3 linked regions of the Homo sapiens genome follow. The protein of the gene in region 1 binds, or shares a complex with, the protein of each later gene. Each region holds a gene or a part of one and is shown in the gene's direction. Other genes may lie near its edges. The genes, in order: ARRB1, GRM3 and NTSR1.

The links.
Region 2: the proteins of ARRB1 (region 1) and GRM3 are in contact, whole or in part, in a cryo-EM structure (PDB 9II2), measured with the Homo sapiens proteins. Residues at the interface, in NP_004032.2 of Homo sapiens: Gly5 (codon at 5,722), Thr6 (codon at 5,725), Arg7, Val8, Phe9, Lys10, Lys11, Ala12, Ser13, Pro14, Tyr21, Arg25, Arg65, Glu66, Asp67, Leu71, Gly72, Leu73, Thr74, Phe75, Arg76, Lys77, Arg103, Leu104, Lys107, Pro133, Arg236, Phe244, Asn245, Thr246; in NP_000831.2 of Homo sapiens: Pro605, Lys608, Ala609, Ile669, Phe670, Asp671, Gly672, Val673, Lys674, Asn675, Ala677, Gln678, Arg679, Lys681, Phe682, Ser684, Cys761, Pro762, Glu763, Phe765, Val834, Val835, Thr836, His837, Gln855, Ser856, Ser857, Ala858, Ser859, Thr860.
Region 3: the proteins of ARRB1 (region 1) and NTSR1 are in contact, whole or in part, in a cryo-EM structure (PDB 6UP7), measured with the Homo sapiens proteins. Residues at the interface, in NP_004032.2 of Homo sapiens: Tyr63, Arg65, Asp67, Leu68, Val70, Leu71, Gly72, Leu73, Thr74, Phe75, Arg76, Lys77, Asn245, Thr246, Ala247, Gln248, Tyr249, Lys250, Lys284, Arg285, Gly286; in NP_002522.2 of Homo sapiens: Ser93, Leu94, Gln95, Ser96, Leu97, Gln98, Thr100, Val101, Arg166, Ile170, Pro173, Lys177, Phe286 (codon at 2,474), Ser287 (codon at 2,477), Met288 (codon at 2,480), Ala289 (codon at 2,483), Ile290 (codon at 2,486), Ala297 (codon at 2,507), Leu298 (codon at 2,510), Gly301 (codon at 2,519), Ser368 (codon at 7,760), Asn370 (codon at 7,766).

Annotation. Positions count from the first base shown.
Region 1 is NC_000011.10:75,346,767-75,357,316, reverse strand, and holds the start of ARRB1 (beta-arrestin-1), read left to right. Parts: upstream 1-5,655; 5' UTR 5,656-5,709; coding exon 5,710-5,729; intron 5,730-10,550. UniProt on the Homo sapiens protein: Functions in regulating agonist-mediated G-protein coupled receptor (GPCR) signaling by mediating both receptor desensitization and resensitization processes.
Region 2 is NC_000007.14:86,645,680-86,655,492, forward strand, and holds part of GRM3 (metabotropic glutamate receptor 3 isoform 1 precursor), read left to right. Parts: intron 1-9,813. UniProt on the Homo sapiens protein: G-protein coupled receptor for glutamate. Ligand binding causes a conformation change that triggers signaling via guanine nucleotide-binding proteins (G proteins) and modulates the activity of down-stream effectors.
Region 3 is NC_000020.11:62,752,353-62,762,165, forward strand, and holds part of NTSR1 (neurotensin receptor type 1), read left to right. Parts: intron 1-2,332; coding exon 2,333-2,534; intron 2,535-5,913; coding exon 5,914-6,004; intron 6,005-7,665; coding exon 7,666-7,915; 3' UTR 7,916-9,813. UniProt on the Homo sapiens protein: G-protein coupled receptor for the tridecapeptide neurotensin (NTS). Signaling is effected via G proteins that activate a phosphatidylinositol-calcium second messenger system.

The DNA of each region.
Region 1 (10,550 bases):
GCTAACACGGTGAAACCCCGTCTCTACTAAAAATAAGAATACCAAAAATTAGCTGGGCGTGGTGGTGGGTGCCTATAGTCCCAGCTATTCCGGAGGCTGAGGCAGGAGAATGGCGTGAACCCGGGAGGCAGAGGTTGCAGTGAGCCGAGATCGCACCACTGCACTCCAGCCTGGGCAACAGAGCGAGGCTCCATCTCAAAAAAAAAAAAAAAAAAAGATAACATTGAAATGTCCACCTAGTGATAAATACCAACAATCCCATCTTAGGAAAATGGGGACTGGAGATCTTGTTAGACAAACCTAAAACAGGCCCTGAGCCATACTGGGGAGATGCCTTGTCTGAGCCTGCTTCCTCAGGATACGGCCCCATCTTCCTTTCCAATCCTTCCCCACTACTCTGCTTTCGCCACAGATCCATCTGAATTCCCCCAAGCATTGTGCCTTTTCCTTCCTTCCTGGCTTTGCAGCTGTTGTGTGTCCTCTCTCTGGAATGCAGTTATCATTCCTCCCTCTGAATTGCTGACACCATGTCCTAATTGGTCTTCCTGTCTGCATCCCTTTTGGTGCATGTCCAATCCATTCTTCACACATCCACCAGAGCATCTTCTCCAAATGCATGTCTGATCATGTCACCTCTCTGCACAGCCTCTTCATTGATACTTGGATGAAGAACAAATTCCTTACATGACCCTCCAGGCCCAGCATGGTCTCGTTCCTGGTACCCCTCCAACTTTATTGGGAGACACTTAGGAGGTAGTCCGGGACTAGGTAGCTAAGGAGTGAGGTGGACAAGAAAGGAGTCAAGGATCACACTCAGATTTCTGGTTGGGCAGAGGTAGGGAAGCTCCTTATTAGTTTCTCAATTTCTAACATCTTGAAGGAGCACATCAGTAAGGCTTCAGTCAGGCTCAAGTCCTTTTTTTTTTGAGATGGAGTCTCACTCCGTCGCCTCAGCTGGAGAGCAGTGGCATGATCTCGGCTCACTGCAACTTCCATCTCCCAGGTTCAAGCGATTCTCCTGCCTCAGCCTCCTGAGTACCTGGGACTACAGGCGCGTGCCACCACACTTGGCTAATTTTTGTATTTTTAGTAGAGACAGGGTGTTGGCCAGGCTGGTCTTGAACTCCTGATCTCAGGTGATCCACCCACCTCAGCTTCCCAAATTGCTGGGATTACAGGCGTGAGCCACCACACCCAGCTCAAGTCCTTTGTTGAACAAGGAGCTGAAAACTCATCCACCCACTCACTTACACTTCAGTCTGACTTTAGTCTGACACTCAGCTACCTGCCCAGCTACGCAGAAGCTTTGGGTTTGAGTCCTTGCTCTACCTTTCATTTGCTATGCCCTTGGCTTAAGCAGTTTCCCTTGTAAAGTTTTGTGTTCTCATCTAAAAAGCAGACATAATACTTCCTTTCTCTCTCTCTATCTCTCCTTTTCTTTCTTTTCTTTTTCTTGCTTTCTTTCTTTTTTTTTTTTCTTGCTTTCTTTCTTCTTCTTCTTTTTTTTTTTTATTAAAGAGACAGGGGTCTCTGCACAGGCTGGAGTGCAGTGGTATAATCATAGCTCATGGCAGCCTCAAACTCTTGGTCTAAAGGTATCCTCCTTCCTTGGTCTCCCGAGTAGTTAAGACTACAGGCACACACCACCAAACCCAGCTAGTTTTTTGTTTTTTTATTTTTTGTAGAGATCTCACTATGTTGCCCAGGCTGGTCTCAAACTCCTGGGCTCTAGCAATCCTCCTGCCTCAGCCTCCCAAAGTGCTGGGATTACAGGCATGAGCCACCACACCCAGAACCACCCTTTCTCATTTTTTAATAAGAAATGATTGTGAGTGGTAAATTTCAGGCATGTGACTCGCCCTAGTTGGAACACAGTTGGAGATGACCATCTCCTATGAGCCTCAGCTGCAGAAGCCATTTGCCTTTGAGCAAAAATCACTCTGTTGCTCAGGTGGAGGATGTGACACAAATGGGTTGACGGGAAGAATGGAGGCCACCAGTCCTCTCGACCGTGACTTCCCTTGGAGAATTACATGGAGAGTTGGCACAGACAGACCCTGACCCAAACCTCTGAGTCATCCTGGATCCTCCATTATTCACAGCCAGTCCCTCAGTAGGTGCTGGCAGCTCCCCTTTCAAATATATCCTGAACCCGGCCAGGCGTGGTGGCTCACGCCCGTAATCCCAGCACTCTGGGAGGCCGAGGCGGGTGGATCACTTGAGGTGAAATCCCGTGTCTCTACTAAAAATACAAAATTAGCTGGGCAGGATGGCATGCGCCTGTAGTCACAGCTACCTTAGGAAGCTGAGGCACTAGAATCGCCTGAACCTGGAAGGCAGAGTTTGCAGTGAGCTGAGATCGTGCCACCGCACTCCAGCCTGGGCAACAGAGTAAGACTCTGTCTCAAAAAAAAAAAAAAATCTGCTTCCCAAATATATCCTGAACCCCATTACTTCCTTCATTTCTGTGGCCACCTGTCTTGCCCAAAACCCCACCCTGACGACTGCAATAATGGGGTGCCTTGCCTCTGCTGTTGTCCAGTACCAAGTCATCTCTATCCAACAGTTAGAGTGACCTTTAAAAATGTAAAGCAGATACTGGTGCTCAGCTGCTTAAACCTCCCACTGGCTCCCCAAACTCCTCATCCTCAACTACAAGTTCTGTGTGACCCCAACCCTGCTGCCTCACCTGTACCACCCCTTGCCTGTTCACCAACACCAGGAGCACTGTCCTTGCTCCTGCGCCTCTACAGTTGCTGCTCCTTCTGCCTGGGCAGCATCTTCCCTGACTGTCCCCTCACATCGCTGATTCTTTTCCGCAGGTTTCAGCCCAAAGCCCACCTCCTCGGAGGGCCTAGGGCCTTTTTCTAAGTCTACTTGTCCCTATCACCCTGTTTCATTATTGCTTTATTTTCTTCATAAAACTTATTACTGGCTGAGATTATATTGTGGATATACAAAGAGTTCTCCTCAACATTATCACTTTTACATTTTATTAATTTTTTTTTTTTTTGAGATGGAGTCTGGCTCTGTCACCCAGGCTGGAGTGCAGTGGCGTGATCTCGGCTCACTGCAATCTCCACTTCCCAGGTTCAAGTGATTCTCCTGCCTCAGTCTCCCAAGTTGCCAGGACTACAGGCGCCCGCCACCATGCCTGGCTAATTTTTTTTTTTTTTTTTTTTTTGTATTTTTAGGAGAGACAGGGTTTCACCATGTTAGCCAGGCTGGTCTTGAACGCCTGACCTCAAGTGATCTACCCGCCTTGGCCTCCCAAAGTGTTAGGATTACAGGCATGAGCCACTATGCCCGGCCATTTTATTAATACATAAATATGTTTTTCAAAAATTAGCTGGGCGTGGTGGTGGGCGCCTGTAGTCCCAGCTACTCGGGAGGCTGAGGCAGGAGAACGGCCCGAACCCAGGAGGCAGAGCTTGCAGTGAGCCGAGATTGCGCCACTGCACTCCAGCCTGGGTGACAGAGCAAGACTCCGTCTCAAAAAAAAAAAAAAAAAAAAAAATATATATATATATATATATATATATATGTTTTTCATAGAGCCTGGCAGGTAAAGCAAAATTGTCCTCTTGACTCTTCTTCTGCCATCGTTGCTCCCTCACTGGAATTTAAAGTAAATTAAATCGACCGGGAGCAGTGGCTCACGCCTGTAATCCCAGCACTTTGGGAGGCCAAGGTGGGTGGATCACCTAAGGTCAGGAGTTCGAGACCAGCCTGGCCAACATGGTGAATCCCTATCTCTACAAAAATACAAAAATTAGCTGGGCATGATGGCAGTGGCTGTAATTCCAGCTACTGGGGAGGCTGAGGTGGCAGAATTTCTTGAACCCAGGAGGCAGAGGTTGCAGTGAGCCAAGATCATTCCATTGTACTCCAGCCTGGGTGGCAGAGCAAGACTTCGTCTCAAAAATAAATAAAATAAATAAATATATTTAGATGTTTTGGGCATCAGCATGGAGAGATCCATTGGAGATCTTATGGTTTGGTCAAACCTGTTTTACAGGTGGGGAAACTGATGTGGAGAGTGGCAGGACCTGGCTTCACCATCCTGGTTAGGGATCTCCTGTCATCAAAGAAGATTCTAGTCTGCTCCTTTCCAGATCTCTGAGCCCTGCAGAAACAACAGGTGGCTTCCTCTTCTTCCTCTGTAGAGGGTGAAACCCAGAGGCCAAGACTGGGAGGAGGGTTCTGGGCTTTCATCCATACTCTCTAGCTCCTAACATTGCCCAGAGGTGGGCCACCCTGCCTACCCATCAGCCTCCCCCTGCCCCTCTGCCAAATCTGGACATAATTATAGTAATTATACTGCATATAAACAGTATAGGTAACTGCTTCTGAGCATAATTACAGGAGATGTTTACATACTCACAACAGCATCAGAGTAAATGATAGCTTACTTTCCCCTTAATACTTAGATATCAGGGACCTATCCGGGATAATTAGCCAAATCTCAGTAGTGAGGGTGTGGTAAAGACCTTACCGTTTCCCACTACCTGCAAAGCAGGAAGGCACCTCAGACAAAGCAGGGTCCCAGCCAAGATTTCACAGGACATCAAGAAGCCTGCAGAGAAGTGGGCTAACATCTACTGGGCACCTACTGTATGCAGGCGCTCAGGGGAGGCCAGCAAACACAAGCGAGTTCTTTCAACCTATTAACAATTCTGCAGGCTGATATTAGTGTATCCTCACTTTACAGGTCCGGACATGGGTTCTCAGAAGCTTAGTGCACAGGGTCACCCACAGCGAGCCATGGAGCTGGGCATGGGCGCTTTCCACGGTGCTACCCGGTCACAGCAGCGGGCCAGCTCTGCCCTCTTCCTTTATCGCCTCTTCTCACTTCTCACAGCTTCCTCTTCCTGGGCGGCCTCCTGCAGCCCCTGCTGGCCGCGGGTCTCCGCTCAGTTCCCCAGTGTCAAGGCCGTCTACTGCCCCCTCCGCCCCTTCTTCCTGTCCCTGTTGTGTGGCTGGGTGTTATCTCTCCAGTAGAAGGGGGTGGGGTGGGTGGAATGGGGAAGGGTGGAGCACAGGGCGAAGGCCTTGCCAGGCATCCCGGGGTCTCCAGCTAAGCGAGGGGCCGCAGGGAGCGCGGCCTCGGGGTCGCCAGACCCTCGGCTTCCAACCACCCGCACACACAAAGGCTGCCCCGGCATGCGCGGGAGAGCGCGCTCGCACCCACGGCCGTGCGCACACACGCACAACTGCACAAAGACGTGCACACTCCTCCATCCACACCAATACACTCCCTAATAGGGCCCGCACACAGCCGTGCGCCCTCACATACACCACACCACCACCACCACCACCACACACACACACACACACTCTCACACGGACTCGCACGCGGGTGGACCCCCTCCCCCACCACAAACGCCGACCTTGGGGCCCTGACGCGTCCCGCCGCGCTGCCCTGCCTCGCTGGGCGGCGCGCGCACACGCAGACGCGCACACACACACACATACACACACGCACACACCCCGCGCGGTTCCACGCCCCTGGCCGCGGCCCGGGCGCTGCGCTGCTCGACGCGGCGGGCGGCGGGCGGGGACCGGGGGCGGGGGCGGCGGCGGCGGCCGGGAGAGCGGAGGAGGCGGAGCAGGGAGCCGGGAGCGGGCTGGCCCGCGCTCCTCCTGCTGGCTGGGGATTTTCCAGCCTGGGCGCTGACGCCGCGGACCTCCCTGCGACCGTCGCGGACCATGGGCGACAAAGGGACCCGGTGAGTGCAGGGCGGCCGCCCGGCGGGGGGCGCGTGGGGGCGACCTCGGCGAGGACACGGGCGGGGGCTCCGATTGCGTCCTGGTTCTGCGTTCGCGGCCACCGCGGGATCTAGTACCAGCTCTCCTCCACCCGAGGTCTCCTGTGTGGTCTCCCCGGCAGGGCCGTGGGCGGGGGGACCCAAAGGGCGAGGGCCGGGCCGCCCCATGTGGGCCGCAGCTCCTGGCCCGGACACACAGCTCGCTGACACCCAGCATTGGCCGGCAGCCGCAGAGACGCACGGGGGCAGGTTGACACACAATACACGCACGGGCACACTAACCCGTGGCACAGGCATGCTGGCGCACACACTGGCAACCGCTAGCACACGCTCATCACACGCAGTGGCACGCCGTCATACACGCCTCGGTCAACACATTCTTGCTGACAGCCTTGTTGGCATGCACAGCTCACAATCCAACACACACCAATTCTAGCACACCCTCGTGCTGGCACACACGTGTGGGCATACACTGATACGCACACTGTCACCTGCACTCGCTGTAGCAAACACTCTTGCTGGCACACACATCACCCTCACTGGCACACACACTTGTGCTGGCATGTCTCACCAACACAGCGGAGCGCAAGGCCACACCAACACTGACCCCCACAGACACAATCAGACTGATGCCCTCAAAGACTGGCACCCCACAGGCACGAGCTGCTAGCCCAAGGCCCGCTGACACACACGCTTCAGGCCCCACATGGCCAGAAGTGGAAACACACACATCACACAGGGTAGAGCGCCCCCCGCCACCCCCAGCCTGGGGAAAACAGATCGCATTTCATCCAAATAGATCCCATCCATCTACTCTGTTCCCTTTCCCTCTGACCTCCTGAGGAGTGGCTGGCCAGGGGCTGTTTTGAACCTAGGGCTGGGAGAACCCCTCCCGTTCTCCTAGAACCTGTCCTGAAATACTCAGAAACAGTCTCTGCCTCTGAAAGGGGAAACTGGGACAAAAGGAGGAGGGGGCTGGAGCAGGACAGCCCCTGGGGGCAGCCCTTCAGACAGGACCAGCGCTGGTCAGGGGCTCAGCGTTGCCACCCTATTTTCCCCGTTGCCCTCCCCACCCCCTAAGTGGGCACAGCAGCCTCTCCCTGGGCTCCCCCTCTTTCTCATTGTTTTCTGTCTTTCTCTTCTATTCTTGTGTCCGACTTCTGCCTCCTTCCTTTCCTCCCCTCCCCTCTCCTCGTTTCCATTTATTATTAAGCTCTTGCTGTATACTAGGCGTAGTGTGGGGGATCAAAGATGCGCAAGGCCCACTCCTCCCCTGAAGGAGCTAACAGACTAGAGAGACACCACCCCGGTGGGCACCACCTTTCAGGGCCACTGACAAAGCTATTTCTCACCCACTGCCATCTAAGACTCTCTCTCCACAGTGTGAGAAAGGGCTTGCAGAGATTATTTCCATTTTCTAGAGGAGGAAACAGGCTCAGAGGCAACTCAGGCTCTTAATGTTTAGAAACTACTTTCCAGCCATCCTCCTGACAGCTCTTCCAGGAGGTTAATTTTCCTCTTCCTGTTTTCTAGCAGAGGAACCAGAGGGCTAGAGGCCATGTGATTTGCCTAAGGTCAAAAGGGGCCAGAGGCAGGGCGGAGGCTGGAGTCCACTTGGTCATGTCTCTGTGGATGGCCCTAGGGCACTGCCAGGCCCCTCATGGGCCAGGGAGGGGAGCCCTGCTCTGTGCTGGAGGCCCAGGCTTTGGGGGGGACGGCAGAAGATCATGCTGTGTCTGCATGAACCTTGATGGCTAGTCCCCATTGCAGCTGGCTGGCCAGCACTGTGACCTAGGCCTCTGTCCTCAGTAGGAAGGTATGTGACTCCTTCCCCAGCCACATCCATCTGCCCTGAAATTAAGACCCTCTTGACCCATGAGGTCAGGCTTTTCTTCCTGCAGGGCATAGCAGGGAGTCGGAGCCATTCTCCACTCCATTGTCCTTCCTAGGCTGCCTTGTGATCGGAGTGACTCAGCCTCTCTTGGGTCTCTCTGTACCTCTCTGTGACTTGGGGGATAAGTGTCATTGTTGTCCTGCTGACATGATTGTCAGGAAGATGTGGACACCATGGGCTTCCAGGCACCTGTTGGAGACCCTGTCTCTGAGGCCAAGGTATTTTCCATGGCTCCCCCTGCCCTGCCTCAAACTCACTGGTGGACCTTTGGGACATTGGGCAATTGCCTTTACTTTTCCGGACGTTAGTTTCCCATCTGTAAACTGGAGCTATCAATACTTACATTTTAGGGCTTCCCTTGTACTTACTGACTTCACTGGGCAGGGGAAGAGGCACTGCCTGAAGCCTGGAGCCAAGGCCCGGCTAAATCCACCTGATGGTGGCCCAGACCTCCCCTTCAGACTCTCCTGCAGCCCCATGAGGCCTTTCTGTCCCTTTCCGGACAGTTGGCTAAGTAATTTGGAAAAGAAGGGCAAAATCAGTAATGGGCTGTACCTTGTCTTTTTCCGTAAGGCATGAGTACCTATGACTTAGAAGAGGAATCTGCAGATATCAAAAACTGAACATCAGGAATCATCGCAACCATCCCTCCATCTGGAATTGCACCCCCATGTGAAAGTGACAATGAAAATTTATCACAAACTGTCATTGCCCTCTAGGAACTCCCAGGGTCAAGGGGGAAAGAGGTGTTAAATACCTGGACAGGGCTGTGCGCGGTGGTTCACGCCTGTAATCCTAGAACTTTGGAAGGCTGAGATGGGCAGATTGCTTGAGCTCAGGAGTTCGAGACCAGTCTGGGCAACATACCATCTCTACAAAAAACACAAAAATTAGCTGAGTGTGGTGGCACATGCCTATAGTCCTAACTACTCTGGAGGCTGAAGTGGGAGGATCACTTGAGCCCTGGAGGTTAAGGCTGCAGTGAGCCATGATCATGCCACTGCACTCCAGCCTGGATGAGAGAGTGAGACCCTGTCTGAAAAAATAAAAAAAAAAAATACCTGGACAGGACTAATCACAGGGCAGGAGTATGATGGTTGCTGCAAGGTGCTCTGGGAACAATCATATATTCATTCAACAAATGTTGATGAGTGCCTTCTGAGTGCCCAGGGCCTGGGGATTCAGCAAGGAAGGAGTCTACTCTGTCCTCCAGGGATTTAGAGCAGAGCAGGTGGTCATAACGCAGGATGACATGTGTTGTGGGAGGCTTAAGGAGAAGTCCCCAACCCAGGCCCAGGCAGGGAGCATGGTACAGGAAGCTCTCCTGGAAAGGAGGTGGCGTTGGAACTACTGAGCTTCATCTGGAAGGATGAATAGGCCAAGGGGGCGGGATTGGGAATGATATTTCTGGCCAAGGGTGCAGAATGTGCAGTGGCTTGGAGGCAGGAAGCAAGGCGTGCAGCCTGGGGCCTGGGCTGGGGATGATAGTGAGCCTTAAGAGGTAAACACAGACCGGTCACCAGCAGTCTGGGAATGTCAGGCTAAGGAGAGAGCATTTTCTCCTGAAGTGGATGGTGATTCAGAGAAGAGTGTGAGGCAGCAGAGGGCTGGAAGCAGATGTTTTCATTTCAGAGAGATGTCTTTGGCAGCGCCAAGTAGGGTGGATGGGAAGAGCAGGCCTAGAAGCAGGAAGACCAGTGAGGAGGCTGGGGAGAAACCTGAGAACTAAGGCTGTGAGCTCTGAACTTAGGCTGCAGAGAGGATAGAGTTGAGAAATATGAATGTGAATAGGAGGTGGAGTCCATCAACCTTGCTGGTCGATTGGACCTTTGCCAGGTATCTGGTGTGTGTTAGAATTACACGCATAATCTCAATGAATTCAACTGTAATCTAGTAGTGTAGTCATTGTTGTCCCCATTTTGCAGATGAGGAAACAGACTAGAAGAGATTAAGTATTTGTTCACTGCCATTCAGCCAGCAAGCATAAGAACCCAGGCCTATTGACCCACAAAGCCCTCTCTGCTACTCGACGCTTTTGCCCAAGAGAGGGGGCCTTGTCTGGCTCACAGTTGGCCTCCCCAGCAGCTCCCAGCCTCAAGTTGTGCGTCCTTTCTGGGCCTTGCCGTTTCCACTTACTCAACAGACAACATGAAGGATCAGATTTAGACAACAGGAGGGACTTCCTGAGAGGCAGTGGTAGGGAATGGAATTTCCTTTCCTGCAGATGAACTCCTCTTTTTTCAGAGAAAGGAGGGTGATGAGGACATGTAATCACCAGCTCTCTGTGAACTTTGGCTGTCATTTCTCTTGGTGGTTAAGCCCTGTGTGACCCATCTTGGCTGGAACATGGGGAAGTCCTGTGGCTTTGGCCAGGGCTGCTCATGGGGCCGCTGGGAGTGGTAGCATCAAGTCTGGCCCACTGTCTCTGATCCCTGATTCCAGGCCGGCCTCTGGGCTTCAGACTTCTCCACTGCTCTCTTCCTTCCAAGTTTGGGCCTCCTTGCCTGAGGCTGACGCCTCCCGTTGGCATGGGTCCAGAGGTCCTGAGTTGTGGGCTTGCCACTTCCAGGGCTTCTGACACTTTGGGTTGGTGGCAGTAGAACAGCAGGCTGGGAGTCAGCACACCCCAAGTGAGGTCCTGGCCTCTACACAGCCATGCTCCGCTACTGCCAGAGTGCCCGCGCCTACCATCTGGCTGAGGCCTGCATGGCTGGGAGCAGCTTGGTGAGGGAGCCAGGGCAGTCTGTTATAGGCTGGACGTAGTGGGGCTTCTGCATAGAAGGGTCTGGATCCTGGGGTAAGAATCAAGGTGCGAGGCAGGGCTTTGGAAATGTGGATGAATGACATCGCATAGGGAGGAGGTATAGAGTATGAAGAGAGGATGATTA
Region 2 (9,813 bases), on another chromosome or scaffold:
TAAGGAAGGATTCTCCCACTTTAAGTATTTTAGATATTGTAAATTTTGAAAAACAAAACTATACACCTCTAAAGATCTTTGGTTAAGGACTCAACTAATTTGCTTATAAAAATATTTCTACTATTTGAATAGTAATAGATATGTTTGGGGTCTATATGTAGGTACATATTGGAATATTCAAAGTTGAGGTTAATGTGAGTTGAGGTAGGTGTGAGTTAAGTACCAACAATAGTTCCTTAGAGTTTCTTTGCTTGAATTTCTTAGAACTGTCCAGCACAGCTACAGTATGTTTCTTTGTGGTGGGCGGGGGGGTGGGGGTGGGGGGGTGGGGGGGGGTGGGAGGGAGTTTAGGGGGTGGAGTCTGCTTTGGTTTATCTGATCACACACTTTAAGATTCCTCTCTGAATTCTAATTGTTTGCAGAAGTATATTCAATATAGGCATTACTAAAGTAATCTAGATTGCCACTATGCTAAACTATGGATAACAGTTCCTAACAAAGATGCTTAGGACACTCTAATGAATAAATATGATTCTATATTCCTACGTACCTTGTTTCTAAAATCAGCCCAATAGAATTTGAATATATTTGGAAGCTATTGTATGCCAGAAATTATTGTAATACTTTTCCTTTCACAATGGGTAGTGTTTTATATTTACAAAGATTTCTTACACCTGTAGACTTTAGCTGTCAATCTTATTGGGTTTTGATCACCCAGCAGGAGTACATAGATATTTTGAATATACATGCCCAAAGGCTATCTTATGTTCAGAGTAACACAGGAGCTCAGGATGGAAAATGAGGAAAGGAAGTCTTGAAACCTATACCTTAACAAATAAAACAATGAAATTCCAGAATATCTACCTTTATTAGATGAAAAAGAATATGGCAACAATACCTTTTAGCATTGAAACCCCTCCTGCCCCTAGATACTATATATCTAGGTATAAAACTGTGGTTTTATGAGTTAGGCCCTTACCAGTGAAATGTGAAACCTAAATCATAGAAAATTATGCCAGTACAATGAATAGGCCACACTTTGGAGCTTGAAACAGATGTCTTTCTATTTATTTAAATTGAATGGTATTTTTCAAACTTCAGGAATATATGATCAGTAACAAGAAAATGTGTGGAAAGCCACACACACAAAAAAATCTTATAATTAAAATATACTCTGTGACCTACTTATTTTTGCACAATGGGCTTTTTAAAAAGTTGTGGTATACATGTGAAAAGGAGTATAAATCCGATGATTTAACCCACAACTACACATATCAAAATGATGAGCTCATCTTTAATTTTATATCACTGTAATTAAAATTGGTAAGTTGAACAAATGCAAATATAACGAAATTGATTGAGCTTTATGTTTAAGTTGAAATTAATATTTGTATTGAATAAAAGAATGGGGATAATTGTCAAAAGCTCACTGCTTCACTTCTCTATGACAGGTGATTAGCTGGAATCACACAATTGAAGATGTTCTTATTTTGAAAGATTCTCAGCAATAACATTTTACAACTTCCCTGGGTACATTTTCCTCACTTTTATTTCATGTCGAACTATCTTTTTGCCAAATAAAACTGTTGTCTTTCTTGTCCATTCTTCTAATAGTGATCAGTCGCAAAATGAAGCATGAGGTTTTTCCAGGATACTAGCTACCTCCTGCCAAAATGTAGCACATTGGCTTGGGGGTGAATTTTCCAATTGTTTTCCTGCACTAAACATCATCCCAATATTCTACTAAACAAAAGAAATGAAAATGAATACCTAATCACTATTGTAAAACAAGGAGGGCAGGATTCAGTTACGCACACTGGAATGTGGCCAAAGTTCCAGCGTGAGACTTGTTTTCTCCAGGAGTAATTCTCAAAAAAAGGAGTACGTGTTTACTCACAGTTGTCTCACTTTGCTATTTTAAACTGAGTTTATTGTGCATTCTCACATCTTTTGAGACTCCACTAAATGGATCCAATACTGCATTAGATGAATTTGTTGAAATTGCTCCCAAGGAGGAGCATAAAATGATAGAAGATTATCTACCAAGTCTGAACACATAAAATGAGTATCATCATAGTAATCACTGAGACGGCAAAAACTATTAGCTCATACCCCTCCTTCTACTTCTAATGTAGGCTTGGTCCCCATAGCCTACTGTATTTTGGAGTACTTCAGTCCAGTCTGACTTTAAATGGATCACGTAATGACTTCTTCCAGAGTCTTTGAAAGACTATTTCAGTCTAATGGTTCTCCCTATTAAGAACTTTGTTGTGATATTCAGCTTAATTTTCTCCTGATTATATTTTATCTTGTTACTTAATTCCTATTATAAACCTTCTGGACTAGTTCATCCTCTTGTCTGATTCAGATTCTTCATCCAACATTTCTCTAGGACTTATAAAATACAAAAGCTTCACACAGTTACAGGAGAGAATACAAAGATGGCAATTCTATGTCCAGACATCTTTGCTAAATGTTTAAGACATTTTTTGCACACTTATATATGTGTATAACTATATGTTCCTAATAATTTAATTTACTAATGTAAGAATTAAGAAATTACCTTTTCTGATGTTAATGACCTATGTGAATATTAAGGTGGTACTTTCTGAGGAATGTTCTATGTGGATGCACATTATGAGACATTTTCATTGCAAATTTGTTTGCAACAGAACCCTGTCAACGCCCACACTACAAGGGAATTTTGTGACATGCTGGTCTGATGCTCCTCTGAGCCCCAGAAGCTGTTGTCATGTAAATTCCACTATTGAAATGAAAGTGATGTCCATAATTAATAGAATGTGCTAGGAATGTAATAGTGTATATAGTTTAGATGTGTATGTTAACAAAACATAGTAATTCTGTTAGGATTGGCAGTAGCCCCTTTATACTGAAACAATCTAAAAAACCCAGTGGAATTAAGGCCAAATTATTCACCGTGCTGCATTATGAAAAGTAAGCTTACATCATGCATATATCAATGTGGAATGTATTTCGATATATATGGAGGTACCATATGTGAAGGTTACTTTAAAAATAGAAAAGCCTGAAAAAAAAAACATAAAAAAACAGGTTTTCACTTTGTTCACTTGAAATCTTGTTCCAAGACATCCGTGTGTAGGCTTCTTTAAGATTCTTAAGCAAATATCTTGGTAGACTCACCATCCCACTCAATTGTTTCTCCAAGTTCCAGGCATTGAAATACAAGTTCTGCTAGACAGTAGAGGAGTAAATGATATAAATCAGGAAATAAGTTCCTAGGTTACACTTAGCAAGTCAAGAAAATATAAAACCAGAGGGAGGTGAATCAGCATCTAAAAACACCATTTAGTGCTATCTTACTGCTTGTTAAGCATTCGACGGTACATGGAAACACTCACGTGGATTAGGTTAAGAAATCAAGGAGGAGACATCTTTCCAAAACTTATTTTTAAACAAATAAAATTAGACTGCACGAAATAATTTTTAAACAAGTACTCTCCCTCCTGAGGTCCCAAAGTATTTTTATAGTGCTATTCATCACATAGTGGTGAGCACCCTCCAAATGATTTTCCTTAGAAACAAAAGGAAAATCAATTTTCTTGGTATAGAAAATGTAGGCCATTAATATACCTATAGCTTCTCTCTGGAACAGCAAGGCATCCAAAGAATCTGTGCCTACACAGAGTAAGTATTTCTTCATCATATTGAACAATCTTTTTATTGAACTGGAAATTGTACACTGTACTTTAAGGAGAGAAATAAACTTGGAAAACATTCTGATATAATCTACGTAGGCATAGATTAAGGCACCAGTTTGAAAATAAAGCCATATATAGAGAAGGCACCTCCACAAAAAGCCCAAAGTAACTCTGATCTTTAATTTCTTATCAGAATTTACTTCACTACTTCACTATCATTGACTGTATAACTACACACACACATATTTGAGTAAATTCAGTTGAAAGGGTATAGATATCTAAACAGATTAAAAAAAATCAAAACCATGATGCTAGATACATAGTTTGAAAAAAACTTACAACCTATATATGTAGCATGGGAATATTAGGAGTATAAAATTTGAGAAGATTCCTCTAAGAAAGAGTCTATCATCAGAAAGAAAAGGTAGCTAATAGGGAAACAATTAGTCAATAAATATTTATTAAGTACCTATTTTGACCAAAACAAAATATAGGACATGCATTGGGAACACAAAAAAATGTTCACACACAAAGTTTCACAAACATGTGTAAAGTTGAAAGTGCTGCAAAAATCAAACTTGAAATTTGAGAGTAGAGAAAATGTTACCAGAATTATCAACCAAATGAAAAAGTCTGTTCCTTAACAGATGCATTCATATTTAGGATTTTAAATGTGTGTATATATTCTGATGCCTTGTGGAGACAGTGTTGTATGCTGTGAGGTGACAAAACTAATAATAAGTCAAAATAATAGGTGATAATTATTAACCAACTTCCCTGTGTGAAGAACTCTGCTATACAAGAACTATACAGTACCTGTGAAGTAGGTACTGGGATCCTCATTTTATACAGAAGAGGAGATGGAGGCCCAGCAAGATAAAGTAACTTGCCCAAGTTCAGGTAGTTAACAAGGCTGCAACTGGAATTCAAAACCTACTTTCTTATTCTAAGACCTATTTTCTTTACTACCAATATTGCCTCACAATTTTTTAATTTATTTATTTATTTTAATTAATTTATTTATTTTACCAGGCTTCATTGCATTCAACAAGTGTTTTCTGAGCTCCAAGTAGAGGGACATGCTTTGGTAAGGAGGGCAAACAATAATCAATGAAAGGGAGTCTAGAATAGACTTCCCCAGGCTCAAGATCTTTCTCCACTCCAGACACTGTCCCTTCTGAGAGGCAGAGACATGCAAATGGAAGAAGTAAGCTAAAACATTATTTATAATTGACTAGGACTAAGGATGAAATTCTAAAATAGAAAAGTCTATGAAGATTATAAATGAACAAGCTGAGAAATAAACACCAGGTCTGAAAGTGTGAGGAAAATATATTTCTTGGAGTCTGATTTCAATGACCATTATCATCTGTAAAACTTAGTACAGTGGCAAGAATATAGTCTCACAAAAAGCCAGGATAGAGGTGAGTAGGATTTCTGCTGAGGCTAAAATGCTGATGTTTCTCTCCTCTTACAACCTACCTACTTCCCACCAGGAAAACAAGCTGGTAAAAAAGTTTTGTAGTATAGTAAAATTTTCAAATTTCTTTACCCTGCTGAAGTAGTAATGGTTCATCTTTATGTTAGAAAACTCTCAGCATTTTACACATCGGGACATTTATCCATAATATATACAACAGCATGAAACTGGAAGGGATCAGGGATTATGAATTTTAAACACACTAAGAATAGGAGATGCAAAGTGACCTGCTGGAGATTCCAAAGACTGTTGGTAGTGCTGCTCCAGGAAAACCCACATCTCATTATTCTCTGACCTCAGTGCCTTCCCACAGACAGGAAACCTGCTGTCTTAATTGCATGAGCTTATACTTCTTTTCACACTTCTTTTCACACAACCAAAGGGCTGAAACAAATCTTTACTTGAGGGTCTTTCTCTGATTTGTGATATGTGCTAGAGTAATTAATGGACATAAAAAAGGAACAGATATCACAGATCGCCCCTCCATCTGGTGGAGGCTGTTTCTTTTGATTGTTAATAATAGATAGCAGATAGATTATTAGTAATATTTGCTTAACAGTTTCAATGAACCATGTCTTGGTGAATACAACATAATGGAAGCTGCTTTTACAAAATATGTCAGAATACATGCCAATCTGAGAGATGGCACTACAAGGTCAAAAACGTTGGAATTTATATCTGCCTCAAGGAGAAAAGGATATCTAGAGAGTATAATTAACTTTCTACTTTGGAACATCTTGTTTTTCCTGAAAAAGCAGAGACCCTCTACATGCTTATGCATTAATCCCAGTGATTTCTGTGGAATCCACATATATGGACTGGTGACCAGTCCATACTATATTGGTCACTACTACACTGGTAGCCAGACCATACCTAACTTCAAAATTGATTAGTAGACAAGACATGAACTTAGATGTCTAACAAATCTCTTCCATAGATTTTGTTCAAGACGTCCCCTTGAAAAAAATGTTTTGAGGAATGCCAAAAGTCCCACTTCCCCCAACACCCAAAATATATTTTTCACTACCTTCCTTGGTTCATAAAATTTTCCAAATTTTAAACTGAAGTATTTCATCCAAGAAGTACTAAAGAACATATAGTTCTAGAACCACATAACGTACTAACCCTCCAACACATTCTGAATTTATAGGCTCATTTTTCAGAAAAGGTAACTTTACCAGTTTAGTAGGGAGTAGGTAGAATGAACAATTAATTTATTGAATTTTTACGTACTTCACGACCTTGTCTAAGACAAGCCCTTCCTTGGCTATGGTTTCCTAAACACTCATAATGCAGTAATTTGAAAGGAAACAAGCCTTCTCTTAGTTGTTGAACAAATGAAGCCCTGGTAGGAAAAAGATTGAGGTGTTAGAGTGCTCACCCTCTACTTTTTTTTTCTTCTTCTAAGGTCCTAAATTTGTGTTTGTTGCTATGTGATATAACAAGACAGGAAGGAAGATAATTTTTGTTTGTTTTTTGTTTTTGTTTTGTTGTTGTTGTTCTTTTTTTGAGATGGATTCTAGCTCTGTTGCCCAGGCTGGAGTGCAGTGACGCAATCTCGGCTCACTGCAACTTCCGCCTCCCGGATTCAAGCGATTTTCCTGCCTCAGCCTCCCAAGTAGCTGGGATTACAGCCGCCCGCCACCACGCCCAACTAATTTTTGTATTTTTAGTAGAGATGGGGTTTCACCGTGTTTGCTAGGCTGGTCTTGAACTCCTGACCTCATGATCCTCCCACCTTGGCCTCGAAAAGTGCTGGGGTTACAAGCATGAACCATGGTGCCCGGCCAGTAGCCGATAGTATTAGGTCCACTTCTCATATGGAAAATGCTGGAACATTTGAAGTAGGAAAGGGTAAGAAAATTGAAAAACGAAGAATAGTTAACCTCTCCCTTTCCTTTATACTCCCCCATGTATTGAACAACAACAACAAAAATCATCTATTTACCTCTGCTGTAAATAGTCTGTGAAATTATTGCCCAGAGAGCCTGCATTAGAATCACTTTGAAGTTTACTTAAAATGAAGAATGCTGGGACACATGCATCCCAGGCTAATTGAAACGAATGTCATATAGATTGAAGTTTTGGAATCTGCATAGTAAGTAAACTTCTGATTATTCTTGGGATTTGAGAAACATTGTTGTCTTAGTCTGCTCAGACTGCTATAATGAAATACCATAGACCAGGTAGCTTAAACAACAAACATTTATTTTTCACAGTTGCAGATGTTGCGAAGTCCATGATTAAGATTATAGCAGATTCAGTTCCTGGTGAGAGTCCTCTTCCCAAGCCACTTTTTTACTCTGTGCTCCCATAGCTGGGAGGAAGAGGAGGTGCTCTGGGCTCTCCTCCTCTTATAAATACATGAATTCCACCATGAGGGCCAAACTCTGATGGCCTTTTGTAAACCTGATCATCTCCCAAAGGCCCTGTTAGTAAACGCAATCACATCGGGAGCTAGGGCTTCAGCATGTGAATTTTGGAGCAACACAAATATTCGGTCCATAACAATTACATGTAGAATGATGGTCATACACAGAATATCCAGTGAATTTCTTTTACCAAATTACTTTCCACAGCAAGTTCATTCTAATTGGATTAACCAGTTGTATAAAGTACATTCTACAAGCCTGAGTACTAATTAAGCTCAACTAATAAGGCACAGTTTCTATAAGTTGTATGAATAGATTTTCTAGAAATGTCCTATTATCTTCGTTGTAAAGGAAGTTTTCCTGTTACCTATAGTAAGTTCCCATGAGATATGCAAACACATATAATAATACACATCTTTTGGATATTCTTATTCGGAGACTTCCTCATTTTTAATCTTTTATCCTGTATTTTATCATTATATTAATATTAATATATTAGAAAGAGAAGTTACTGGTATTTGAAGAAGTTACTGATATTCTTATTAGAAAACCTTCTCACTTTTAATATTTTATCCTATATTTTATCATTAATATTAATATATTAGAAAGATAAGTTACTAGTGTTTGAAGATTATCATTAATGAAAAGATTATTTCTTAGAAACTCTCCTCGATTTGAATAACTGCACTCTTAAAATTCAAATTGTCTTTATAGTTATGCCCTTATGAGCTAGGGGATGTGGGAAAACTTCTGTCACAACTCTCCCCACTGCCCTCTAGATCTGCAGCGTGGGGGCAGGGGAAGGACCTCATTTGGCAACTTACACATTCTTCACTCAGCGTCCACTTCGTTCAAGTGAATGGTTGCTTAGCTAAAGCCGGCAATCCTCACAAATACTGCCAAAGATAGTTTCCTAAGCAGCGTTCAGAGCCACATGGGAAAAATGCCGAACAGGAAGTGAGGGACTGGCAGCAGGGAGGGGGAGGCTCAGCCTGGGCCACCAGCTTTACCTCCCAGGGGTTTTGTGCTCCCTCTTTGCCTTCACTGGAATGCTACACTTAGTAGCTGACTTCATGAAGAGAAAAGCAATAAAAAACAGAGCACACCCCCACTCTCCCAAATATTTTAATGGTTTGAATTTTTTAAGACTCAGGAATCTCAGAGACAAAACTGTTAAACTGTTGAAAGTTACACCGTGTCTCAGCAGAGCCTGGCTTTCTTGACCGTTCTGATGGTTACAGTACTTCTACCTGATGATGTCACTTCTACTGGACTGTCCCACTCACACAGCAGTCTCTACGTATCTAAAGCCAAAAGCCCACTGCCTCCCCCAACTAGCAACTTATTTTCTGATTCTAAGAGAAACATGATTATTTCTCCATACAATCATTCAAAATTGTGGAACTGCCCATGACATTTTTCTTCTGTTTAGTCCTCTGTTGATTCCTTCCTAAATGATATGGCAACTTCTTTATTCTCCTACCACTGACAAAACCTTAGCCCAGGTTATCATCACTGTCCTCTCAATCTTTAACCATTTATCTCCTTCGTTCTCTCTCTCCTTATACAATTACTTATTCATCAGAAATTTAATGAGTGCCTACTGTGTGTTCAGTCACTGTTCTAGAGATATTATAGCATGAACAATAATGTAGAAATTTTTTTTATATTCAGCTTACACTAAATAGACAATAAACAAGAGAACAAATACAGTGTGAAGAAAATAGAATGAGGGATGTACAAAAGTGAGAGAAGCTGGAAAAGGAAGTATTGCCACCAGATTAAACTTGATGAATAACTGGTTTTTCCAGGTGTTAAAAGCATTAAATATAAATATCACTTAAATGTAACTTCCCAGCGTGGCCATTAAGCATTTTACAATCAGGTCCCTGGTGTATCTTTCCAATCTGTCATCCTCAACATGAATATCTAGTCTACCCAGACCTTTCTGTTTGCACCAAATACACACCTGAGTGTCTTTGTAGTATGATTTCATTTAGAATGTGTTTTCTTCCTCCTTTCTCCAAACCTATATTTAAGTCCAACTTCAAAGTTCTGCTTAATCTAAGTTCATACTAATGATTTTTTATCTGTTTTACCAAAGAAATTTTTATTCAAAACATCCATGTGGTCCTTACTGTAGGTAGGCCTGATTACTAAAATATTGCTTTGGCATAAGTAACAGGTAGGTAGATCAGTAAATTGTGGAATAAAATAAAAAAGCAAATTTATTTTTATTTCTCACTGCCCCTTTAAAAGGTATTCAGTAAAATATATTACA
Region 3 (9,813 bases), on another chromosome or scaffold:
TTCCAGCTGTGCGTCTGGGAAGAGAAGGCCGGCCCCAGGAGTCGGGGTGCATTCCCCTCACCCCCCAATCCTACTCGGCTTCAGTCTCCAGGGTGGGCAGGTGGGGGAGGCGGGGGAGGGCCAGACTTCCTCTGCAAGGCCCCGCCTCTGTCCCCACACGTGGCCCTGCGGCAGACTCTGTTCCCTCCCTCTGGAAACGGCAGGATCCTCCAACGGGGGCAGCCAGGGGGCCGGGGCCAGACCCTACAACCCACCAGCCCCCAGAGGTAGCTATTTTTGCAGCCAGCCGTGTTGGTGAGGTTGGTATTTTAAATGTTTTGACATTTAAAATCTGTGTTGGATACATTGGTGCTGTTTAAACTATCCCCGGGCTGCGGTGACTCACAGGGAATGGGTTTATCTCCTGAGGCTGGGCCTGGCCTCCCCTGTCCCCGCTCCCAGCAGCCGGAGTGGGAAGAGGGAGTTTTTACCTGCCCCCAGTCTCACCAGCACCTTGTTGTCCTGCAGAAGGTGGACTTCGGCCAGAGCAGGAGAACAGGAGGGACGCGGGACGGCCTCAGATCCGGACGCCCAAGCAGGGGAGGGCAGAACAGACCCGCCACCCAGCCAGGGTCAGCAGCGGTGGTGGTGGCTCTCAGGAGCCCACACAGGTGGCACGAGCAAGGGGCGCTGGGCTGGCAGGTGCAGGATGCTGCCTCCCGGGGGTTTGAGTGCCCCCTCTCCATGCATGTCCTCTGATCTGTTAGCAGAACTCTGCTCAAATGGAATGTGAGGGTAAACTCAGGCCGCCTCCTTCCTGAAGGCCTCTGAGTGCTTCTGAGTGGAGCCGGGAGCTTCGATGGGAGCAGGAAGGACCTCCAGAGGTGCCTCAGCCGGTGCCCAGAGGGGGCCAGGGAGAAAACCTGCCGACATTCCCACGACCCCAGCACCTCTCAGTGGCTGCCCTGTCCCATGGCCACCGCCGCCTTCATTAGCGAGACACGGCGAGGATTGTCCTCACCGGGACCATCCTGACTTGGACTGTTGAGGCCATGTGGCTCTGCCCTCCCTTGTGGCAGGAGGTTGGGAGGGAGGTGGCCCCTGCAGCCCAGCCCAGGGAATCCCACGGCAGATACCCCTGGACTTTCTACCGCAATCACAGCCACCAGCCACAGAGCTAGTACAGGCCGCTTCTCCAAGACACCCAAAAGCTTCTTGGAATCAGAAATTCAGCATGAGGATCCCGGGCAGCTTGGCAGAGAGGGGGCAGCCTCCGTCCCCGGCACAGGATCGAACCCGCAAGTGTGGCAGCCAAAGACGCCAAGATCTGGCTTGCAGAGAAGAGCATCTTACAAAGAACCGAAGGCCAAGGAAGATTTTAAAGCCATTGATGGCTGTTATTCCACTGCCCCAGGGAGGGGTGCCGGTTTCTCCATTGGAAGCCGGGCCATGGCCGTCCTGGCTGGTTCTGCTGCTGCCAGTCCGCAGACATGTCCCCTTCCTGTTCTGAGCAGCAGCTCTGGTTGAGGAGGAGGCTAGGCCACTGCCCATCTGGGGAAGTCACAGCCACCCTGCCAGTGCCTACAGAGTCACGTCTCAGCCAGGAGTCGCAGAAGGAGCGGGACTCAGCTCAGGCCAGGCTCAAATCCAGGCACAGCCCCCCTTGCGCTGGAGTCTTTGGGCAGGACCTCTACCCTGTCCAGGACTCGGATCAGGTGCAGGGTAGCTATGATGACCCAGCCTTGTGGGTTGATGTGGAAGCTAGAGGTGGGGAGTGGGGGCTCCAGGTGCTGATAACAGGGGCCCTATACCTTTCAATGCTCTGAGAGGTAGCTGGGGTGGGAGGGAGGAAGGGGCCTCTATTAGTGTGAGCTGTCAGGACCTAGGAGAACTGTCTGCACACAGCTACAAGGCCAGGGCTTGACTCTCCCACAGGACGGGCCTTGGGGTGGGGCAGCCACGTGCTTGTGGGCCTCAGCCATGCACACAACATGTCCAGACCTGGGAACCTAGAGCCTAGGGCCTTTGCCACAGCTGGGACACCCCAGTGGTTGTGTTCCTTGCTGTGTACAGGCGGGACCCTCGGGAGGGACTCATGAAAGTAGGGGAGTCTGCAAACTTCTTCCCAGTCAGAGGCAGGGTCGGGGGCAGGCTGAGGGCCAGCTTACAACAGCAGCCAGGGGTGGCCATGTCTTCCGGGCAGCCGGGATAGGGCCGGACCTCCTGAACTTGTGTTGACTGAGCACCTCACACTGAGCAGGCCTGACACCCCAATCAGCACGGCAGGCATCCCAGCTGAGGGTGCATGAGTCCCGCTGCTGGCTCTGACAGCCTCGCCCTTCCTCTCCTGCAGGTCAACACCTTCATGTCCTTCATATTCCCCATGGTGGTCATCTCGGTCCTGAACACCATCATCGCCAACAAGCTGACCGTCATGGTACGCCAGGCGGCCGAGCAGGGCCAAGTGTGCACGGTCGGGGGCGAGCACAGCACATTCAGCATGGCCATCGAGCCTGGCAGGGTCCAGGCCCTGCGGCACGGCGTGCGCGTCCTACGTACGTAACCTCTGGGCCCTCCAGGGGCGGGAGGCAGGCCAGGGCTAGCAAAGGCAGCGAGCGCTGAACCACCCCAAGCCTGGGCAAGGTTTAAAGACATAGGGATGGAGCTGTCAGGCCAAGACCCAAGGGTGCCAGCTCCCCCGAGGGGTGAGTGCCATTCTGCACTCCATCCCTCCCTCCATCCTTCCATCTATCCTTCCCTCCCTCCATCCATCCATCCTTCCCTCCCTCCCTCCATCCATCCTTCCTTCCCTCCATCCATCCATCCCTTCCTCCTTCTATCCCTCCACCCCTCCCTCCTCCCTTCATCCCTCCCTCCATCCATCCATCCTTCTCTCCCTCCTTCCCTCCATTCACTCCTCTACCTCTCCCTCCATCCATCCCTCTCTCCCTCCTTCCCTCCATTCATTCCTCTACCTCTCCCTCCCTTCCTTCCTCCCTCCCTCCATCCATCCATCCCTCTCTCCCTTCCTCCCTTCATCCCTCCATCCACCCTCCCTCCCTCCATCCATCATTCCATCCATCATCCCTCCATCCATCCCTCCATCCATCCATCCATCCTCCCTCCATCCCTCCCTCCCTCCATCCATCCTCCCTCCCTCCATCCCTCCCTCCATCCATCCTCCCTCCGTCCATCACTCCCTCCCTCCATGCATTCTCCCTCCCTCCGTCCATCCCTCCCTCCATCCATCCTCCCTCCCTCCATCATCCCTCCCTCCCTCCATCCCTCATTCCATCCCTCCCTCCCTCCCTCCATCCCTGCCTTCATCCATCCTCCCTCCCTCCATCCATCCTCCCTCCCTCCATCATCCCTCTCTCCCTCCATCCCTCATTCCATCCCTCCCTCCCTCCCTCCCTCCAGCCATCCTCCCTCCCTCCAGCCATCATCTCTCCCTCCCTCCCTCCATCCCTCCCTTCAGCCATCCTCCCTCCCTCCATCCATCCCTCCCTCCCTCCATCCATCCTCCCTCCCTCCACCCATCATCCCTCCCTCCCTCCATCCCTCATTCCATCCATCCATCCCTCCTTCCATCCCTCCTTCCCTCCCTTGTTCCATTCCTCCCTCCCTCCATCTATCCATCTCTCTGTCCATCTGTCCACTTGCTCACGTGCTCACTTATTCATTTGCTCAGCAGTTGGCTGAGTGCCCACCCTGGGTCTCGCCTATTCTTGCTCACAGGCATGGAGGCAGCAGAGGCAGGGGCATCCCTGCACTCTGGGGGAACAGGGGCTCCACCAAGGACACAAACACAGGCACCAGGCACCTTCAGCCAGTGATGAGCATGAAGAAAAAAATACCACCACCACCACCCCTGACTACATCTGGCAGCTGGGAGGGGCTCTCAGAGCAGGTGGCATCCTGCAAGTCCCAAGGACCAGGAGCCCATCTGGGCAACAGAGCTGCAGGCGAGGGGATGGCTGGAGCAAAGGCCCTGTGGTGGGAGGTGCTTGGCAAGAAGGCGGGGCAGGGGCAGGGCAGACGCTGCCAACAACACAGGGCTTGGAGAGTGTGATGGGAACTGGAGAGAATGAAGCCCTTTCATGCCTGAGACCCAGGTCTTCAGTTTGGTTTGCCTGAAGCATTTGGCTTGAGCTCCTCCCTGGTGCTGGCCCATTTTCAGGGCTTGTTTGAGGGTGTGGCCAGTCACAGGAGAGGCCCATAGCCAAGCACATTACCCTAAGAGAGCCTGGCTCTGGGCTCAGCCTTCCCTGCTCATGGGAACCAGCCAGGGCTTTGGACACGGAGCTCTCAGGGCTGGCGAAGCCCACAGCAGGGCAACGCCCATCCTATCGGAACCCTGAGGACCAGCCCCAGCTCAGGACGGCTGGCTTGCCAACATCCAAGGTGTGTCCTGGTCCCAGTGTGTGCCTGTTGTTTTAATAGTAGCCATCCTAATAGATTTGAGGTGGCATCTCGTTGTGGTTTTGATTTGCATTTCTCCAGTGATTTAAGATTAATGATTAATAACATCTTTCATGTGCTTGTTGACCATTTGTATCTTCTTTGGAGAAATGTCTGAGTCCTTTGCCCATTTGTGAATTGGATTGTTTGTTTTCATGTTGAGTTTTAGGAGTTATACTCTCAAGGTTAACTCATTATCAGATGTGATTTGCAAATATTTTCTCCTTTTTTGTGAGCTGACTTCCACTCTCCTGATGGCATCCTTTGATACACAGAAATTCAGTGTTTATGTTGTTCAATTTATCTACTTTTTTCTTTTGTGGCCTGTGCTTTTGGTGTCATACCCAAGAAATCATTGCCAAAATCAATGTTGTAAAGTAATTATGTTTTCTCCTAGGAGTTTTATGGTTTTAGTTCTTATGTTCAGGTCTTTAATCCACTTCAAGTCCATTTTTGTATATGGTGTGAGGGGAGGATCCACCTTCATACAAGTGGATGTCCCGTTTTCCTAACACCCTTTGTTGAATAGACTGTCCTTTCCCCACTGAATGGTCTTGGTGAAGATCACTTGACCATAAAGGTAAGGGTTCGTTTCTGAGATTTCTAGTCTATTCCCTTGGTCTACGTGTCTATCTTTATGCCAGCACCACACTGTAACTTTGTAGTAAGTTTTGAAATCAAGAAGTGTAAGACCTCCAACTTTATTTTCTTACAAGATTGTTTTGGCTGTCCGGGATCCTTTGAGATTTCATATGAATTTTAGCACAGATTTTTCTATTTCTGCCAAAAGCATTCTTGAAATTTGATACGGATTGCATTGAATCTGTAGAGTGCTTTGGGTAGTACTGACACCTTAACAATATTAAATCTTCCAATCCATGAACATGGGATGTCTCCCTGCATCTCCCTCAGACCACGTGTCTCCTTCTCTGAGGCCATATCTCTGTGTCTCTAAGCCCATGTCTCTGAGCCAGTGTCTACCTCCCTCAGCCCATGTCTCTCCCTCTCTGAGCCTGTGTCCTGTCTCTGAGCCTGTGTCCTGTCTCTGAGCTTATGCTCCCTCCCCAAGCCCACGTCTCTCCCTCTCTGAGCTTGTGTCTGGTCTCTGAGCCCATGTCTCCCCCACTGAGCCCACGCCTCTGTGCCTCAGGTGCAGTGGGTCTCTGAGCCCACGCCTCTGTGCCTCAGGTGCAGTGGGTCTCTGAGCCCACGTCTCTGTGCCTCAGGTGCAGTGGGTCTCTGAGCCCATGTCCTGTCTCTGAGCCCACGTCTCTGTGCCTCAGGTGCAGTGGGTCTCTGAGCCCATGTCTCTGTGCCTCAGGTGCAGTGGGTCTCTGAGCCCACGTCTCTGTGCCTCAGGTGCAGTGGGTCTCTGAGCCCACATCTGTGTGCCTCAGGTGCAGTGGGTCTCTGAGCCCACGCCTCTGTGCCTCAGGTGCAGTGGGTCTCTGAGCCCACGTCTCTGTGCCTCAGGTGCAGTGGTCATCGCCTTTGTGGTCTGCTGGCTGCCCTACCACGTGCGGCGCCTCATGTTCTGCTACATCTCGGATGAGCAGTGGACTCCGTGAGTACCGGGAACCAGGAAGTTGGGTGCTGGACAAGTAAGTGCTCCCAAAACAGATGGTGGGTGTGGCAGGCACTGCTGAGGGGATCCACTCAGGGCAGGGGTGTGGTGAGTCCCCCGGCGACCCCCTGGGCAGGGTTGTGCTGTGACTGGGGCCGGGAGAAGGCCATGGAGGGACAGGTTCAAGGCAGGGGCTATTCAGGCCAGACTGGTGCAGAGAAAGAAAGTTGGTCCTAAGAGAGATGGCCCAGGCAGTTTCCCGAAGGTGAAAGAGAGACATCCCTGGCTCTGCTGGGGACATGGTGGGGGTGTCACCTCCTCATATGGCAGCTGTCAGAGCCCCAAGGCCACCCAGGTTGGACCCACAGGGCTCAGCCTGGAGTTATACTCAGGGCTGTGACTTATCGCAGCAAGAGCACCAATACTGACAAAGCTTTGCTTATACAGCAAAGTCAGCAAAGGGAAAAGACACATGGAGTGGGGTCAGCGGAAGACCAGATGCAGCTTCCAGGGCCCCCTCCCAGAGGAGCCTCACAGGACGATATGGGGGCCGATCACAGGGGCACCCACTGCCTGGCAAAACCCCTACTGTTTGCACCAACAGTTCAGGGGCAGGGAGCCCTTCTCACCCAAAAATGGCAGAGCCTTCCCAAAATCCAAGGCCCCAGGCACCAGCCAGAGGCCAGCCTTGCCAGCTGGCCATCCTGAGATGGCAGCTTGGGGCCCACTTGTGAACCCTTTTCTGTGCAGTGGGGCTGCCAGATCCCAGAATAAAAGGTTCCTTCCAGTGACAACCACCAGGGAGGGCGCACCTACGACCAATGAGGAGGAGAAGGCACGGGGAACAGAGTGTGGCCCCTGCAAAAGCTTCTGAAACTCAGGGCTGACTGGTAGTAATTGAGCTGCCTGGTGAGGGAGTGAGATCACTGTGGGGGGAGGCAACAAGCTGAGGGCAAGGTGTGTGGCTGCTGGGGAGGTGTGGAGGGGGTTACTGCCCTGGCTGTTTGGTTAGGCCGGGACCAGCCAAGCCCTGGACCCTTGGATGCACAGAGCTGCGAAGGGCAATGCAGGCAGCTGCAAGGAGAGGCAGGGATGGACAAGCAGAGCCCACGCTCCACCTAAAGAAGCCCAGGCTGGGTGGGACACGGTGGCTCACGCCTGTAATCCCAGCACTTTGGGAGGCTGAGGTGGGTGGATCACGAGGTCAGGAGATCGAGACCATCCTGGCTAACACGGTGAAACCCCGTCTCTACCAAAAATACAAAAAATTAGCCGGGCGTGGTGGGGGGGTCCCTGTAGTCCCAGCTACTCGGGAGGCTGAGGCAGGAGAATGGTGTGAACCCGGGAGGTGGAGCTTGCAGTGAGCCGAGATCGCGCCACTGTACTCCAGCCTGGGAGACAGAGCGAGACTCCGTCTCAAAAAAAAAAAAAAAGCAGCAGCAGCCCAGGCTGGGCGGGAGCACGACGAGAACTTGCAGCTGCTCAGGAGAAGCCAGACCCTGGAGCTTGTTATGAAATGTCCCCAAACAACCATTCTCAAGGGGTGTTTTAATTAGCGTCTGAGCCACCACGTCCCTCAGCCGCTGTGGCCCCGGCTGTCACCCTGCCTTGGGGCCCTCAAGAGTTCTCTCTGGGATCTGAGCGCCTCTCTCTCCCCGCAGGTTCCTCTATGACTTCTACCACTACTTCTACATGGTGACCAACGCACTCTTCTACGTCAGCTCCACCATCAACCCCATCCTGTACAACCTCGTCTCTGCCAACTTCCGCCACATCTTCCTGGCCACACTGGCCTGCCTCTGCCCGGTGTGGCGGCGCAGGAGGAAGAGGCCAGCCTTCTCGAGGAAGGCCGACAGCGTGTCCAGCAACCACACCCTCTCCAGCAATGCCACCCGCGAGACGCTGTACTAGGCTGTGCGCCCCGGAACGTGTCCAGGAGGAGCCTGGCCATGGGTCCTTGCCCCCGACAGACAGAGCAGCCCCCACCCGGGAGCCTTGATGGGGGTCAGGCAGAGGCCAGCCTGCACTGGAGTCTGAGGCCTGGGACCCCCCCCTCCCACCCCCTAACCCATGTTTCTCATTAGTGTCTCCCGGGCCTGTCCCCAACTCCTCCCCACCCCTCCCCCATCTCCTCTTTGAAAGCCAGAACAAGAGAGCGCTCCTCTCCCAGATAGGAAAAGGGCCTCTAACAAGGAGAAATTAGTGTGCGGCAAAAGGCAGTTTTCTTTGTTCTCAGACTAATGGATGGTTCCAGAGAAGGAAATGAAAGGTGCTGGGTGGGGCCGGGCCTCCGGCGGCCCGGCTGCTGTTCCCATGTCCACATCTCTGAGGCCTGCACCCCCTCTGTCTAGCTCGGGGAGTCCAGCCCCAGTCCCGCAGGCTCCGTGGCTTTGGGCCTCACGTGCAGACCCTGCCATGCAGACCCATGCCCCCCTCCCCCAGGCAGCTCCAAGAAAGCTCCCTGACTCGCCCCTTCAGGCCTGGCAAGCTGGGGGCCCATCGCCGTGGGGAGTCCCTCCCACCACCCTCGCCGCAGGCAGCTGCAGCCCCCAGAGGGGACCACAAGCCCAAAAAGGACAAAAATGGGCTGGCCTGGAATGGCCCAGACCCCAGCCTCCCCTCCTCCCTCCCATCCTCACCCAGGCCAAGGCCCAGGGGCTCTGCCAGGACACCACATGGGAGGGGGCTCAGGCCTCAGCCTCAAGATCTTCAGCTGTGGCCTCTCGGGCTCGGCAGAAGGGACGCCGGATCAGGGGCCTGGTCTCCAGCACCTGCCCGAGTGGCCGTGGCCAGGATGGGGTGCGCATTCCGTGTGCTTTGCTTGTGGCTGTGCAGGCTGAGGTCTGGAGCCAGGCCCAGAGCTGGCTTCAGGGTGGGGCCTTGAGAAGGGGAATGTGGGACAGGGGCGATGGTGCCTGGTCTCTGAGTAAGATGCCAGGTCCCAGGAACTCAGGCTTCAGGTGAGAAGGAGCGGTGTGTCCAGGCACCGCTGGCCGGCAGCCCTGGGCTGAGGCACAGACTCATTTGTCACCTTCTGGCGGCGGCAGCCCTGGCCCCGGCCTCCAAGCAGTTGAAAAAGCTGGCGCCTCCTTGGTCTCTAGGATCCAGGCTCCACAGAGCACATGACTAGCCAGGCCCCTGGCTTAAGAAGGTCGCCTAAGCCTAAGAGAAGACAGTCCCAGGAGAAGCTGGCCGGGACCAGCCAGGAGCTGGGAGCCACAGGAAGCAAAAGTCAGCCTTTTCTTCAAGGGATTTCCCTGTCTCAGAGCAGCCTTTGCCCCAGGGAAATGGGCTCTGGGCTGGCTGCCTGCACCGGCCATGTCGACCCAGGACCCGGACACCTGGTCTTGGGCTGTGTTCAGCCACTTTGCCTTCTCTGGACTCAGTTTCCCCGTCTGAGAAATGAGAGTCGAATGCTACAGTATCTGCAGTCGCTTGGATCTGGCTGTTGAGTTGACGGGTTCCTTGAACCCCACAAAATCCCTCTCCAACCACAGGACCCTTCGGCTCACCAAGAACAGGGCCCAGGGGAGTCAGGCCTATTCGCTGCACTTCCTGCCAAACTTTGCCCCCACAAGCCTGGTCATCAGCCAGGCAGCCCTCCCAGTGCCCAAGGGCCACCAACCCCAGGGAAACAGGGCCAGCACAGAGGGGCCTTCCTCCCCCACAGAGCCCCCATGACATAGTCTGCTCTGGGCGGAAGAGCTTTGCTGCCAGCCAGGGATGTCCAGAGGTCAGTGCAGCCCCTACCCCTGCTCAGGAGTGGGCTCAGAGTCTAGCAAATGCTAAGGCCCCTCAGGCTGGGCTCT